Homo sapiens: one gene and its partner. The protein of the gene in region 1 interacts with the protein of each later gene in a pairwise test. Each region holds a gene or a part of one and is shown on either strand. Other genes may lie near its edges.

What was found. Proteins that work in one complex are often made in the same cells at the same time.
Region 2: the proteins of CD164L2 (region 1) and DRAM1 interact in binary tests that used the Homo sapiens proteins (3 or more experiments, as listed by UniProt).

The regions. Positions count from the first base shown.
Region 1 is NC_000001.11:27,380,325-27,388,616, forward strand, and holds the start of CD164L2 (CD164 sialomucin-like 2 protein isoform 1 precursor), read right to left. Parts: upstream 3,010-8,292; 5' UTR 2,916-3,009; coding exon 2,828-2,915; intron 2,344-2,827; coding exon 2,176-2,343; intron 2,076-2,175; coding exon 2,004-2,075; intron 1,501-2,003; coding exon 1,456-1,500; intron 1-1,455.
Region 2 is NC_000012.12:101,894,194-101,901,605, reverse strand, and holds part of DRAM1 (DNA damage-regulated autophagy modulator protein 1), read right to left. Parts: intron 3,744-7,412; coding exon 3,676-3,743; intron 316-3,675; coding exon 173-315; intron 1-172. UniProt on the Homo sapiens protein: Lysosomal modulator of autophagy that plays a central role in p53/TP53-mediated apoptosis. Not involved in p73/TP73-mediated autophagy.

The DNA.
Region 1 (8,292 bases):
CGTTTAGTCCAGATCCCGCAGGCAGTTGGGAAGCGCCTGGTGGGAGGAACAGTGGCAGGGGAGGGTGGGGTGCTGTCCAGCCCTGGCTCTGCTCCTGGCTTGCTCTGTGGCTTTTATGCCACCCACATTCTCTCTGGGCCTCATGATCACATGGTCCAATTGGTGGCTTGGACCAGTGACTGGGCTCCCACCCTCCCTGGGCCTCACCAGCCCAATAGGGTGAAGACAGAGCCAGAACTCAGACCCTCCCCTGCTCACAATTCCTTTCAGCCTTGGACCTCAGGGTTCAGAGCCAAGATGCAGACGATATAGTCCCTTTTCAGGACTCCTAAGCCCTAAGACCTCAGTGTCACCCAATGTCAGAGCCCTCAGAGAGGGAAGGAGCAGGGGGAGAAGTGGAGGCCCCAACTGTCACCCTGCTAAGTGGGTAAGCGAGGACTGGACAGTGTGTGTCAGGGGGAACATGGCTGAGGGACAGGCTTGGCCAAAGTCACCTCACAGGACATAGCCAGACTCACACAGGGTCCCCTGACCATCTCCTCTGCCCCTTAGAAGGTAGGGCTTTAGGGCCATGGTTGCCAGGCTATGCCTGGGTGGCTCCCAGCTGTGCCACGGTACCTGTCCACTCCTAGCAGGGATTTGATTTCAGGCCCTGGGCTGGGTGCCCAGAACAGGGCAGGGCTGGTGGATGGAAGATCATTCTGGGACAGTGGAAAGGGGCCCAGCCTGAACTGGGTCTCCCTCCCAGAAGGTGTAAGGGGTGGAAGGAGTCTGACAATATGAAGGGCAAACAGTGGTCCCAGCTCCCGCTCAGGGAGCCCCAGAGAAGGAAGCTGGGGGATGAGGAGCAGAAGAGGGGAGAAATGAGCCACATGAGGCTGATCCGGGGCTCCAGCTGAGGGAGCTGAGCCATCAATAATTCAGCTTCTGAGATCGGTTTCTGGCTTTAATTAACCAAGGGCCTCTTCAGCCATCCCTGCCAAGTCTGGTGACCTCCAGCCCCTGAGAGGGAGTGGGAAGCAAAGGGTGGCATTCTTGCCTCTACTCCGCCAGGAACCCGCCTTGTGACCCTCTCTGGGCCTGGAGGGTGCAGTAGGCAGGCACTGAGGATGTCTCCTGAGCAACTCGAGCCACACACCCTCACCTCCAAGGACAAGTCCCGAGGGGTGACCTTGAGTTCCCAGAACTGGCAATGGGGAGGAGGGATGGGAACTGTCATTTCTTGATTGCCTTCAGTGAGTCAGACACTGAAGTGGGCACTGTACAGCTTCTCATAAAACCTGCAGAGCAACTCTATGAGAAAGGCATCATCCAACCCATTTCACAGATGCGGAGACAGGCTCCGAGGGAGAAGGCGCAGGGCCGAGGTCACAGAGCATGTCAGTGCCTGAGCCCAGAGCTGTCTTCCCCTGCACCTCTGCTCCTCCCACTGCCCCGTCTCCAGGGAGTACTCACCTGTTGTGACTGTCTTCGGTTCATAGGTGGGGTGGTGGTGAGCAGCTGAGGAGACAGGTGATCCATAGCAAAGCAGCCTTCCCACCCCCTGACTCCCATCAAGACCCCAGCCCCCACTCACCGCTAAACTTCCGATTCAGATGCAGCCCTGTCCCTACTCTAGACATCCAACATACTTGCAAGCCCCACACAGTTCCCTCCACCAGATGTGCTCTCTCTCCATCTCTACCTTCCAGGCTCATTACTGATGCCACCTCCTCCAGGAAGCACTCCCTCTCATTCCCTCTGAACTTCCAAAGTCCTTGCTATGCCTTAAACTAGAAGAAGAGCTAACACTCCCATCCCCTCCACACACCTGTACTAATTTTCAGATGAGGAAATAGGCAGAGAGAGGAGGGGACTTCTCAGTGAGCTAAAGGCAGAACTGATACCGGGCCCAGGTATGGGTGAGCAAAATCCACCGCCTGAGAGAGGCTGTTTCCTCCTGGGGGGCAGGCTATGGCTGGGGAGACCCATGCAACTTGGCTTAGGTGCAAGAACCCCCTTACCTGGACATGCCTCTGAGCGGTTGTAGATGGAGCAACCTTCCTTGACCACCTCAGATTGGGCCACACAGTGTCCTGGTGAGAGAAGGTGCAGGGGGGAGGTTTGGGGAGAGGGGCCAGGGCCTTGGGGTTCAGAGCTGGGGGCACTCAATCTGGGGAGGGCTCAGCTCCATACCTGGCTCCTCTGGCCGGCACTGCTCCCACACGCAGCTGGAGAGATTGCGCGCTCCGTCTCCCTCCACGCAGTGCTCACAGACCTCCAGCTGTTTGCAGGCCCCTTGGACCGCCGGCCAGATATTCAGGCGGATCAGGGCTCCCCTCCCAAAGCCTCGAGCTCCTTTACCTGGTAGTGCGGTGGAGTGGGAAGGGAGAATTCCTCGAAGCCAAGCTGTGGCACCCGCCCACCCTCCCACCCAACACTCCGGTGGCCCTCGCCCCTCTGCACACATCTGGGCTCTCACACTCACCCCTGGATCCCCAAGCCCCAGCGCACACCTGGAGCTTCCACAGCAGAGGTCTACACACACCTAGAGCCTCCCCACATTCACCCAGAGCCCCTCCCTTTGCATACACCCGGGGTTCCCAGATTCAGTTGGAGCCACCTCCCCCAGACCACCTGAAGCTCCCTAGGCCCCCACACCTGGGGCCTATATTTACACACAGGGCTCCACACAGAGCTGGAGCCCCCTCTCCCACCCCTGGAGGCCTGCACTTGGCCGGAAAGCCCCCTCCCCTCAAGCCCAGGCTGCTCCTGGGGAGACGGCTGGCTGAGGTGCAAGCTCCATCCGTCCCCGTCGAGCCCCTAGCCAGACCCTGCCGCGAGTTACCAGCCACAGCCAGCTGGGCACATAGGAGGAGGCAGCAACAGCCGCCACAGAGCGCAGTCCGCAAGGCGCGGGGTCCCGGAGCCTCCATGGGCTCGCGGGGTGGGGGTGGCCGGGGGCGGTGGCCGGGATCGGTGGACAGCTGCCGGGCGCGTCCCTCCCAGACTGGGCTCGGCTGAGCGTGTGCGGAGCGAGACCTGGGCAACCGGGGCGTGGCCAGGTGGGGGCGTGGCCAGTGGGAGCGGCAGGTGGGGCGGGGCTCGTCGGTCGGGGCGGAGCCAGGTGAAGGCGGGGCCAGTTAGGGGCGTGGCTAGTGTGCGCGGCCAGGTGAGTTCGGGGGTCTGGGGCGGGGCTTGGACTAAAGCAGGTGGGGTCCAGGACTGGTGGCTGGCGTGGTTACTATGTGCCTCCAAGGGCAGCTTCTTGAAAATTCTGGAAAGTACCGACTGCTTTGATCCTTACTTCACAGGTGAGGAAACTGAGGCTCAGACAAGATGAGTGACTCGTTCGAGGTCACGGAGAGAGGCAGTGGCAAAAATCTGGATTCGAGACGAGGTCACTTCCCTGCCTTCAGGGCTCGGTGCAGGCCCCGCTTTGTACACCCTCCACCCAGGCCCCATGACCGCTGGGCCGGGCCCTAGCTGGCCCCTGCCCTCTGGCTGCCCAAGCTTAGCTTCGGTGCTCCCTCTCCATTCACTGCACCCCTCCACCCGCCTCCCTTCTGCCCCTCATCCGCTGTGTCTGCCTCTGGCCTACCACACCCTCTGGCCAGGTCAGGGGTGACGCCATTACTAGGCCAACTGGGCCTCTCCGCAGCCTTCCCCACGGCTACCACTCCTGCCCTGGCACCAGCCTCTTTTGGTTCTCCTCAGGCTCCTTAGGGGGCACTTCCTCTCCTTCCTCTTCCTCCTCCCCTCCTCTCCCCTCCTTCCCCCATCTGCTTCTCCTAACCCTCTCTTAATCGATGGTGGCCCAGGTTAGTCCCAAGCCCTGTTCCACACTCTCCTGGGGTCATCCTGGACATTCCACTGCCATCAGTCCCCACTTGAAACCCAACAGCTGAGGCAGGAGGATTGCTTGAGCCCAGGGATTTGAGGCTGTAGTGAGCTGTGATCATGGCATTGCACTCCAGCCTGCGCAACAGAGTGAAACCCTGTTTTAAATGAATGAATGAATGAATGCCAACAGGTCACGTATCCCAATAAATATATACACCCACTATGCACCCATTAAAAAAATTTTTTTTGAGCCAACAGATCTCTTAATCATCTCCAGGCCAGTTCTGACTTCACAACTGCCACACCTGTAACTGACAATATATAGCTAGCAATTATTGACCCCTTACTAGCCGAATGTACATTTTGAGAGCTTTTACATGCAACTTCCCATCTAATGTCCACAGCTACCCTCTAGGCATGAGTTTTGTCATTTCCCATTTGCAGGCTGCTCAGGGGCACAGGGTTTCAATGCAGCAGGCCAGGATGTAAAGCTAGGATTGAATGATGCTGGAGGCCATGCTCCCTCTGCTGTGCCTCCCATGGGTCCACGGCATCTCCACCTGAGTGTCCCTGAGGCCCCCAAAACTGCCCACTCAGGGGAAAAGAGACCCTTCGGGTTCTGGGGGAGGGAGGAGGGATAGCATTAGGAGATATACCTAACGTAAATGATGAGTTAATGGGTGCAGCACACCAACATGGCACATGTATACATATGTAACAAACCTGCACATTGTGCACATATACTCTAGAACTTAGAGTATAATAAAATATATATATTATATATATAAAAAAAGAAAATGTGGCACATATACACCACGGAATACTATGCAGCCATAAAAAAGGATGAGTTCATGTCCTTTGCAGGGACACGGATGAAGCTGGAAATCATCATTCTCAGCAAACTATCACAAGGACAGAAAACCAAACACTGCATGTTCTCACTCATAAGTGGGAATTGAACAATGAGATCACTTGGACACAGAGGGGGAACAGCACACACCAGGGCCTGCTGGGGGGTGGGGGGCTTGGGGAGGGATAGCTTTAGGAGAAATACCTAATGTAAATGATGAGTTGATGGGTGCAGCAAACCAACATGGCGCATGTATACCTATGTATCAAACCTGCACGTTGTGTACATGTACCCTAGAACTTAAAGTCTAATAAAAAAATAAAATAAAAATAATAAAAAATAAAATTAATTAATTAATTTTAAAAAGTCCTTCAGGTTCTGTCCCCTTGTATTCCCTCTGTACGCCTCACTGCATCTCAGCAGCTTCCAGGCCCCTCCTATGCTGGCCCTCACAAATCATATATTTGACCATATCTCTTCCAGTTAGCAACTTTTTTTTTGAGCCTGAGTCTCACTCTGCTGCCCAGGCTGGAGTGCAGTGGCACAGTCTCAGCTCACTGAAACCTCCACCTCCCAGGTTCAAGGGATTCTTGTGCCTCAGCCTCCCAAGTAGCTGAGATTCTGAGATTACAGGCACCCGCCACCATGCCCGGCTAATTTTTTGTATTTTTAGTAGAGACAGGGTTTCACCATGTTAGCCAGGATGGTCTTGATCTCCTGACCTTGTGATCCGCCCGCCTCAGCCTTCCAAAGTGCTGGGATTACAGGCATGAGCCACCGTGCCCGGCCAATTTTCTGTATTTTTAAAGTTGAGACAGGGTTTCACCATGTTGGTCAGGCTGGTCTCGAACTTTTCTTTTTTGAGAGGGAGTTTCGCTCTTGTTGCCCAGGCTGAAATGCAATGGTGCAATCTCAGCTCACCGCAACCTCTGCCTCCCGTGTTGAAGCAATTCTCCTGCCTCAGCCTCCCAACTAGCTGGGATTACAGGCATGTGCCACCACGCCCAGCTAGTTTTGTATTTTCAGTAGAGACAGGGTTTCACCATGTTGGTCAGGCTGGTCTCGAACTCCTGACCTCAGGTGATCTGCCTGCCTCGGCCTCCCAAAGTGCTGGGATTACAGGCGTGAGCCACCGTGCCCGGCCAGTTTCGAACTTTTGACCTCAAATGATTCACCCACCTTGACCTCCCAAAGTGCTGGGATTACAGGTGTGAGCCACCATGCCTGGCCCCACCTAACAACTTTTCAACAATGGCTTGACCTCCACAACCCTTTGATTTCTGGCTCTAGAAGTCTCTCTATCCTGGCCTGGGTGCTTCCCATCACCTTCCTACCCTCTAAGAAGATAGAACAGAGCCTTCCCCCTATACCTCTCTTCCTCTATCCTAGCTGTTCTCTCTCCTAGAGGGTCCTCCTCAACCTTGGACTTCATTTGCCTGGCAAACTAATTCTTCAAGACACCACTACAAGACCACCTCCTGCAGGAAGCCTTCTGTGACTGTCACAGAATGAGGCTGAGCTGCTGCAGCACTTAGCTAGAGATCTAAATCCATCTGCTTTTTCCACTTCAGAGCCCTCCCCATCTCTTGCCTGAATGACTGCAGTGGCCTTCTAGTGGGGCTCCTGCTCCCCATTCCAGTCTGTTCTGCACTCAGCAGTCAGAGTGACCCTTTGATAACGTGTCAGTTCAGATCATAACACTTCCCTCCCACCAATGGCGTCTGTCTCACTGATCTGGGATTTCAGGCGCCCGCTGCCACACCTGGCTAATTTTTTGTATTTTTAATAGAGACGGGGTTTCATCATATTGACCAGGCTGGTCTCGAACTCCTGACCTCAGGTGATCCACCCGTCTTGGCCTCCCAAAGTGCAGGAATTACAGGCATGAGCCGCTGTGCCCAGCCAGATGTTTATTAAGTAACCTTACTGTACCATGTTGTGACAATCTGTGTACATGTTTGTCTGTCCCACCGGTCTGTAAGCCCCCAAGAGCTCCCTTCTGTCTCACATGATCTTGCCTCTGCCCACCTCGCCTCTCCTCCCTCTCCCCTTTGCTGATTTAGCTGCAGACACACTAGCCTCCTCTCTCTGGTCCTCACACCCATCAATGCTTTCTCTTCTTGGGGACTTTACACTTGTCGTGTCCTCTCCTTAAGACTCCTGTTCTCTCTTCACGTGACTTGTTCCATGACCTCCCTCCCTAAAAGAGGCCACCTGGTGATCCTACATCCCAACAGCTGCTCTTTTCTTCAGAGCAGGTAGCTAATGTATAATTAATTACTCATTTGTTTCCTAGGCTGTAAGCTTCATGAAGGCAGGAACCATGTTGATCTTCCCTCCTTAGTGAACTCCTTGCACACAGTAAGGGCTGAATAGATGTTGGGGTTTTTGTTTGTTTGTTTGTTGAGACGGAGTTTCGCTCTTGCTGCCCAGACTGGAGTGCAGTGGTGATCTCGGCTCACTGCAACCTCCGCCTCCCAGATTCAAGTGATTCTCCTGCCTCAGCCTCCTGAGTAGCTGGGATTACAGGTGCCTGCCACTATGCCTGGCTAATTTTTTGCATTTGTGGTAGAGACAGGATTTCATCACGTTGGCCAGGCTGGTCTCGAACGCCTGACCTCAGGTGATCCACCCACCTCGGCCTCCCAAAGTGCAGGAATTATGGGCGTGAGCCACCATGCCCAGCCAGATGTTTATTAAGTAACCTTACTTACTATGCCATGTTGTGACCATCTGTGTACATGTTTGTCCCACTGGTCTGTGAGGCCCCCAAGAGCTCCCTACTTGAATAGATTTTAAGGATCTATTTGTAGATTGTCCATCCCTCCAGATTAAAACTGAAGCTTGGCCTGGCACAGTGGCTCATGCCTGTAATCCCAGCACTTTGGGAGGCCGAGGTGGGCAGGTCACCTAAGGCCAGGAGTTCGAGACCAGCCTGGCCAACATGGTGAAACCCTGTCTTTACTAAAAAATACAAAAATTAGCCAGGCGTGGTGGCATGCATCTGTAGTCCCAGCTACTCGGGAGGCTGAGGCAGGAGAATCGCTTGAACCCGGGAGGCGGAGGTTGCAGTGAGCTGAGATTGCACCACTGCACTCCAGCCTGGGCAACAGAGCAAGACTATGTCTCAAAATAACTAACTAAATAAATTAATTAATAAAACTGAAGCTCATTGAAGATGGCAGGGATTTTTGTTCACTGCTGTATTCTCTGTACCCGGGAAATAGAAGATGCTCAATAAATGTGTCTATTGACTGTTGAAAAGGCAGGAATTTGGCCAGATCATCTTTCTGTCCCTAGCACCCACTGAACAAACCCTAAGCCCAGGGGAACTGCCAGTAAATAATGGCTGAATGAATGGGTCTATGCTAAGAATATGGGCACTGATGATGCCTAGACCCTTGGGTCTTAGACAAGGGACTCAGGTGTGGGGATTATCTATGACTGACACACACACACACACACAAGCACACACGCACGAACACCCCCTCCCCGCCAATTCCTCCCTCCCCAAGGGATTTCTCCAACTGGTGAAGACAGAAGAGGCAAGGATAAAAGTCTCACCTGGAAGTGAGTCCTCACAGCCATCTGGTGGCCACCTGGAGAACTGCAGGTATTGT
Region 2 (7,412 bases), on another chromosome or scaffold:
CCCTGATTTCCAAATGTTAAAGGTTTCTAAAAAGCAAACTAACCCACTTATTGTAAACTCATCAAGCATTTAATGGCTATAATGGCATAAGTGTGCCTCTTGCATTTCTGCTGCTCTCTTCAGACACATACACTCCACCACTCCTCATAACTGAAAAAGCTCCAGATTATACCTGAAAATTGGCGACAATGCCCATTCCGAAACATCCCACCAATCCAAGCACTAAAGACACCAAGTTAAAAACAGGAGTGCTGAAATAGCAGGTTTGATTTTGCTTCTGTACTATTTTGTATCTTGTATACATCGTGGCTGCACCTGAAAAAGAAGAGAACTTTGATGAATGTTCATAATTTGATGTCTTTAGGATGAAAAACAGGAGCAGCTTTGTATCACTTTTTAAAAATGTACTGATTGCAAGTCTCCCCACTTTCCCACCCCTGTCCCTCCTGACTCCATCTTACTCTCTCCCCAGCATGTACAGACACACACACACACACACACACACACACACACACACACACACACACCCCTTGGCTGTTGTCCTTTTCATGTAAATGCTATTATAGTACATGTATTACTCTGTGACTTGCTTTTTCCATTTAACAGTGTACCATGGAGATCTTTTCAAGCAAGTACAAACAGATCTACTTCATTGTTTTCAGGGATCTTATCATGGTCTGTGGTATGAGATACTATATTTATTCCTCATTCTCCTAAGAATGAATTTCTACATTGTTTCCATGTTTTTCCTGCTACAAACAACACGCCATGAATATCCTTGTATATAAATCTTTGGGTTTCTGAAAGACCAGTTCCTAGAAGTAATATTACTGGGTCAAAAAACCATGCACAATTAGAAACACCTCCAAATTGCTCCAGCCCGTTGACGATTTAGACTCCCACCAGCAGAATTTGCGAGCAATTGTGTATGCCCTTGCCTTTTTAATTCTGTCAGTCTAATAAATGAAAATTCAACCTGTTGGGTTAGTTTGCATTTCTCTGATCATTAGCAAGATTTAGCAACTTTCAGTATATCTACTGGTCATTTGCATTTCTTCTTCTGAGAAATGCATGTTTACAATTTTCTTTTTATTCTTCTCTTGGGCTTGTCGATATCTAATTTGTAGTTACTTTTTACACATTATGTCCATTAGTCTATTATCTGCTATAAATATTACAAATTTTCTTCTGCTCTGCTATTTGTCTTTTAACATTGTATCTTGTATCTTACATCATTTGAAAGTTTTAATTTTTAATCTACTCATATCTATCAATTCTTCTGCGTTTTGTGTTTCTATTCCAAGGTTTAAAAAATATTCTCCTGTAATTTAATTATTGCATAGTTTTGCTTTTCATGTCTATTAAATTGCAATTGGTTTTTGTGTATGATGTGAGGAGGATAGTAAAGGTATGTTTTTCCAAATAGCTAGTCAATTAACCAAATACCATTTGTTGTAATTTGGCAATAAAATGTAGCCTCCATGAGAGCAGGGCTCTTGTCTGTTTTGTTGGCTGTTGTAAACTCAACACTAAGTCATAAACAAGCACAAACCCTATCATATAGTACATACTTAGTAAATGTTGAATAAATAAATAGCTACCATAATTTTAGATACATATTCCCTTTAACTCAGCAAATTTATCTTATAGAAAAACTCACACAAATATGCAAAGATATATTTAAAAGATGTTCACTTCAACATTAGAATTACAAAATACCAGAAATAGCCTAAATGTTGGACAATAGGGAACTGATTAAATAAATGATAATACATCCTTGTGAAAGATATCATGCATGTGTGGAAAGGATAAAGTAGATGTGTATATATTTACATAGTATGACGGCCATAATCTATTCCTGAATTTTTAAAAAGCAGGCTAAAAACTAATAACTTATCATAAATCTTTTTTTTTTTTTTTTTTTGTGGAGACAGGGACTTGCTCTGTCACCTGGGTGGGAGTGCAGCGGCACAGTCATGGTTCACTGCAGCCTTGACCTCCTGGGCTCAGGCAATTCTTCCACTTTATCCTTCCAAGTAGCTGGAACTACAGGCACACATCACCACACCCAGCTAACTTCTTTTTTCTTTCTTTCTTTCTTTTTTAACTTTTTGTAGAGATGAGATCTCACTACATTGCCCAGGCTGGTCTTGAACTCCTGGGCTCAACAGATCCTCCTGCTTCAGCCTCCCAAAATGCTAGAATTACAGGCATGAGCTCACATAGACTATTTCAAATGAATATATTTGTCAGTTTCTGCTTTATTCAGAAGCAAAAGCCGTATTTATCACTTGCTGTGATAAAATAATCTCTCTGTTTTCCAAGTCTGGATTCTTGGCAAGGATGGTGTAAGAGGGCACTGGGATTGACTGACTCCATATTGCTACTTCCCCTTGCTCACCTCCAAAACTTTAGGAGGACTACAAATGGTGATGCGGTGAAACTTTCCTGCTACCAAGTAGGATGAACAAATTCCAAAATGCCAAGTCACTAAGTAGGGTCAGCATCACTGTCCCTTCTCACACTGTACCAGTAGAGAGGAACAGAAAGCGTTGGTTACAAGATAGGCCCTTGGCAAACACTTGATTGTTTGGGGGGAGATTATAGAAGGACTAAGAGAAAATGCCCCACATCTGATATCTATATACTTGAATCACCTTATAGAAGACTGAGCTTTACATTAATTATACAATAGTTGTAATTAATATGCATTACATTAATTGGCTTATGACAAGGTTGCACCCTATCATCTGCATCTTAGGTACATCTGAGGAACTGAAAAGAAAAATCATACTATTCCTTGCTCCACCTGTCCCCTTTCTCTAACAGGTAAGATAATGCCTTTGTCAATGGTCCTCAAACTTTAGTGAGAAACCAAGTCCCCTAGAGTGCTTGTTTACAACACATCTTCAGGAACCCACACTCCCAAAGGTTCTGGTTGAGTAGCATGGCCCAGGAACCTGCATTTTACGAGAACTCCAGGTGACTTTTCATCAGCTTGCCTTCAGAATACACTTTGAGAAACTTAGCTTACGCATTGGGTGTCTTTGGCTTACATAAGTGTCTTGACCATAAATCAACACTTTTAAAAACTAAATTGCACTTAAAATCCGTTCCAGAAGTTTGGTATTTAAAACCACCTACAGCAAATCCTGTTACAAATTACTAATTAAAGTATAGTTCTCTAATAAAGCCATAATTTTTTATATCTTTTAACTTCAGTTTCTCAAAATAGGACAAAAATCTAGCTGCAAAGATTGTGCTTTTAAAAAAATTATACACAAGGCCGTGTGCAGTGGCTCACACCTATAAGTTCAGCACTTTGAGAGGCCAAGGCAGGTGGATCACTGAAGCCCGGGAGCTCAAGGCCAGCCTGGCAACATGGTGAAACCCCATCTCTACAAAAAACTACAAAAAATTAGCTGGGCGTGGTGGTGTGCACCTGTAGTACCAGCTACTCCGGAGGCTGAGGTGGGAGGACTGCTTGAGCCTGGCAGGTTGAGGCTGCAGTGAGCCGTGATCACGCCACTGCACTCCAGCCTGGATGACAGAGACCCTGTCTCAGAAAAAATAAATAAAATAAAATAAAAATTATATGAAAACTACAAATGACACATCAACTTCACTTGGAATTGTGAGCTTTTCAATTATTTATAATAATTATTGTGTACTTACCAAGAAATGCAGAGAAGTTTATCATAAATCCAAAAATACCACTCTCTGGAGGTGTTGTTCCCGTATCACTGGCAAAGGGAAGAAATGTCCAAATTATTAGAAAGAAATTCTGTCCAGACCTCTGGGAAGACACGTAATTGGCGAGTTTTATATTCTGTTTCTTTTAGGTGTTCAGCCACTTTGAATTCCAAAGATTTGGCCTGATTTTGTTCTAAAGTATTTTCATTTTGGCTCTGAAAAATCTAAAATTTATTTTTATACCATGAGAGATTCCATAGTAAAAAGCCAGAAAATGTTTAAAATGAATGGTGCTGCCATTTTTCAAATGATCGAACCCACTAACCTTGGTATGTGTTCCTTCTCAGTGAAGAATGACTACTTTGAAAAAGAAAAACAAAAACAAAAAAAAAAGATCTAAAATCATGTTTGAGGCCGGGTGCAGCGGCTCACACCTGTAATCCCAGCACTTTGGGAGGTGGAGGTGGGAGGATCACCTGAGGTCAGGAGTTCAAGACCAGCCTGGCCAACATGGTAAAACCCCCATCTCTACTAAAAATACAAAAATTAGCCTAGCATGGTGGCAGGTGCCTGTAGTCCCAACTACTTGGGAGGCTGAAGCAGGAAAATCTCTTGAACCAGGGAGGCGGAGGTTATGGTGAGCCGAGATCATGCCACTGCATTCGAGCCTGGGCAACAGAGCAAGACTCGGTCTCAAAAAAAAAATAAAAATAAATCGCGTTTGAAAATTCTAATATTGGCATGTTAAATACACATAAACACATCACTTTATTTTCTAATAATTGAGATTTTATTATCTGCTGAAAATATTATGATAAAAATCTGAGGCCGGTCACGGTGGCTCACGCCTGTAATCCCAGCACTTTGGGAGGCTGAGGCGGGCGGATCACCTGAGGTCAGAAGTTCGAGACCAGCCTGACCAACATGGAGAAGCCTCATCTCTACTAAAAATACAAAATTAGCCGGCCATGGTGGCACATGCCTGTAACCCCAGCTACTCAGGAGGCTGAGGCAGGAGAATCACTTGAACCCAGGAGGCGGAGGTTGCGGTGAGCCGAGATCACACCATTGCACTCCAGCCTAAGCAACAACAGTGAAACTCTGTCTCAAAAAAAAAAAAGAAAAAGAAAACTGAACAATATTATTGATCTCTAGGAATACTTTATGGAAATAATAGGGTATCTAGGGTATATTAATTGTGGTAAATTATTTTAACAAAAAAGGGTTTCTGTAAAACATTTTTCAGGTACAGTCTTTCAATTAATTAAATGAGTTGGAAAATACTGTTTGACATGTTCTTTTTTTTTATTTTTTAGAGACAGGGTTTTGCTATGTTACCCAGGCTGGTTTTGAAGTCCTGAGCTCAAGCAATCCTCTTGCCTCAACCTCCGAAAGTGCTGGGATTACAGGTGTAAGCCACCATGTCTGGCCAACATGTTCTATTTTCTATTAGTGCCAAGCTTTAATTTTTTTCATTTTCAGGCTGCTCACTTTAAAACTGATGGCAAAAGAGCTCCCAACATGAAACAACTTGAACTCATTTTGAGTGTTTCTACATTTGTAAACAGCTCTGAAATTTAAGTATTAAAAAACCGATCACGTTGAAAATGATGCACTTGTAAGTGTTTGAAGAATTCCACAAGGAGCCTGTGTGTGCAGAAAACAGGAATTTTTTAAGTTTTGCGAACACTTAGTATTTAAACTGGAGTATAAAGAAGTTAATAGGGCCGGGCACAGTGGCCCACGCCTGTAATCCCAGCACTTTCGGAGGTCGAGGCAGGTGGATCACCTGTGGTCAGGAGTTCGAGACCAGCCTGACCAACATGATGAAATCCCATCTCTACTAAAAAATACAAAAATTAGCTAAGCATGGTGGTGGGTGCCTGTAATCCCAGCTACTCAGGAGGCTGAGGCAGGAGAATCGCTTGAACCCAGGAGGCAGAGGTTGCAGTGAGCCAAGATTGCGCCATTGCACTCCAGCCTGGGCAACAGAGCAAGACTCCGTCTCAAAAAAAAGAAAAAGAAGTTAATAGCCTCCCTTACGACCAGGCGCGGTGGTTCACACCTGTAATCCCAGCACTACGGGAGCCCGAGGCAGGTGGATCACGAGGTCAGGAGTTCAAGACCAGCCTGGCCAACATGGTGAAACCCTGTCTCTACTAAACATATAAAAAATTAGCCAGGCGCGGTGGCAGACGCCGGTAATCCCAGCTAATCCGGAGGCTGAGGCAGGAGAATCGCTTGAACTCAGAGGGCGGAGGTTGCAGTGAGCCGAGATCGTGCCACTGTACTCCAGTCTGGGTGACAGAGTGAGACTCCTTCTCAAAAAAAAAAAAAAAAAAAAAATAGCCTCCCTTACAGCAAATGCCTTTATTCCAAATTAATTCAATTTCAATGTCACTGGTATTGCAAGAACCTGAAGGGTTTAGGATTTAGGCTGGGTATAGTGGCTCATGCCTGTAATTCCAGGACTTCTGTGGGCCGAGGCGGGAAGATCACTTGAGCTCAGGAGTTCGAGACCAGCCTGGCCAACATGGTGAAACCCTGTTTCTACTAAAAATACAAAAATTAACTGGGCATGGTACAGCGTGCCTGTAATCCAAGCTACTCGGGAGACTGAGGCAGGAGAATCACTTGAACCCAGGAGGTAGAGTTTGCAGTGAGCTGAGATCACGCCACTGCACTCCAGCCTGGGTAAAAAAAAAAAAAAAAAAAAAAAAAAAAAACCTGAAGGGTTTCGAATTTAGCATTACCACTTTTCCTACAATAACCATTTTTCACACTACAGGAATGTTGAGGTGGAGGATGCCCTTCTGAGCACAATGCTGAATGGGCAGAGAGACAGGAATGGGAACCAGTAATGGGGAAAAAAGCAGAGACAGCTCATAACCTTGGGCAGCACTTTTGCCACACAATTAACTCTGCCAGGGAAATCAGGCCTCCCTGCCTTGGCCTGAGGGTATAAAAAAGCAGGCACCAGGTGACTCATCCTAGAGTTCTTGTTACACAGGTCTGAGAATAATTCTGAACCTCAGACAGCCACATGCCAGGCATCGGAGCAAACACAGAGGAGAAGCGCTGGGAAGAAGGTTGTTTGCCTGTCTGTGGAGAAAGGGAAGGCAATGAAAGAATGAGGAGGATATTTAGGAAGATAGGGAGGTGGCGATATGAAGGTGCTCTAGGTGCTCTGACTGAAGAGAAGACCAGACCTGGGGACTCTGTCTATTGATGGCAAATTGAGACTATGTCAAAGGCCCAGGTGTGGAGTCCACATGACATCAAACACGTGATCTGAAAACTTGGAATTCCAGGGTCGTGTTCTATTCTTGCTTATCTGTACATTTAAAACCATACAGGTGGAGGCCAGGCACGGTAGCTCACACCTGTAATCCCAGCATTTTGGGAGGCCGAGGAGGATGGATCACTTGAGCTCAGGAGTTCGAAACCAGTCTGGGCAACATGGTGAAACCCTGTCTCTACAAAAAATACAAAAATTGGCCGGGTGTGGTAGCTCATGCCTGTAATCCCAGCACTTTGGGAGGCTGAGACGGGTGGATCACTTCGGGTTAGGAGTTCAAGACCAGCCTGGCCAACATGGTGAAACCCCATCTCTACTAAAATATAAAAATTAGCCAGGCATAGTGGTGCATGCCTGTAATCCCAGCTACTCAGGAGGCTGAGGCAGGAGAATCATTTGAACCTGGGAGGTGGAGGTTGCA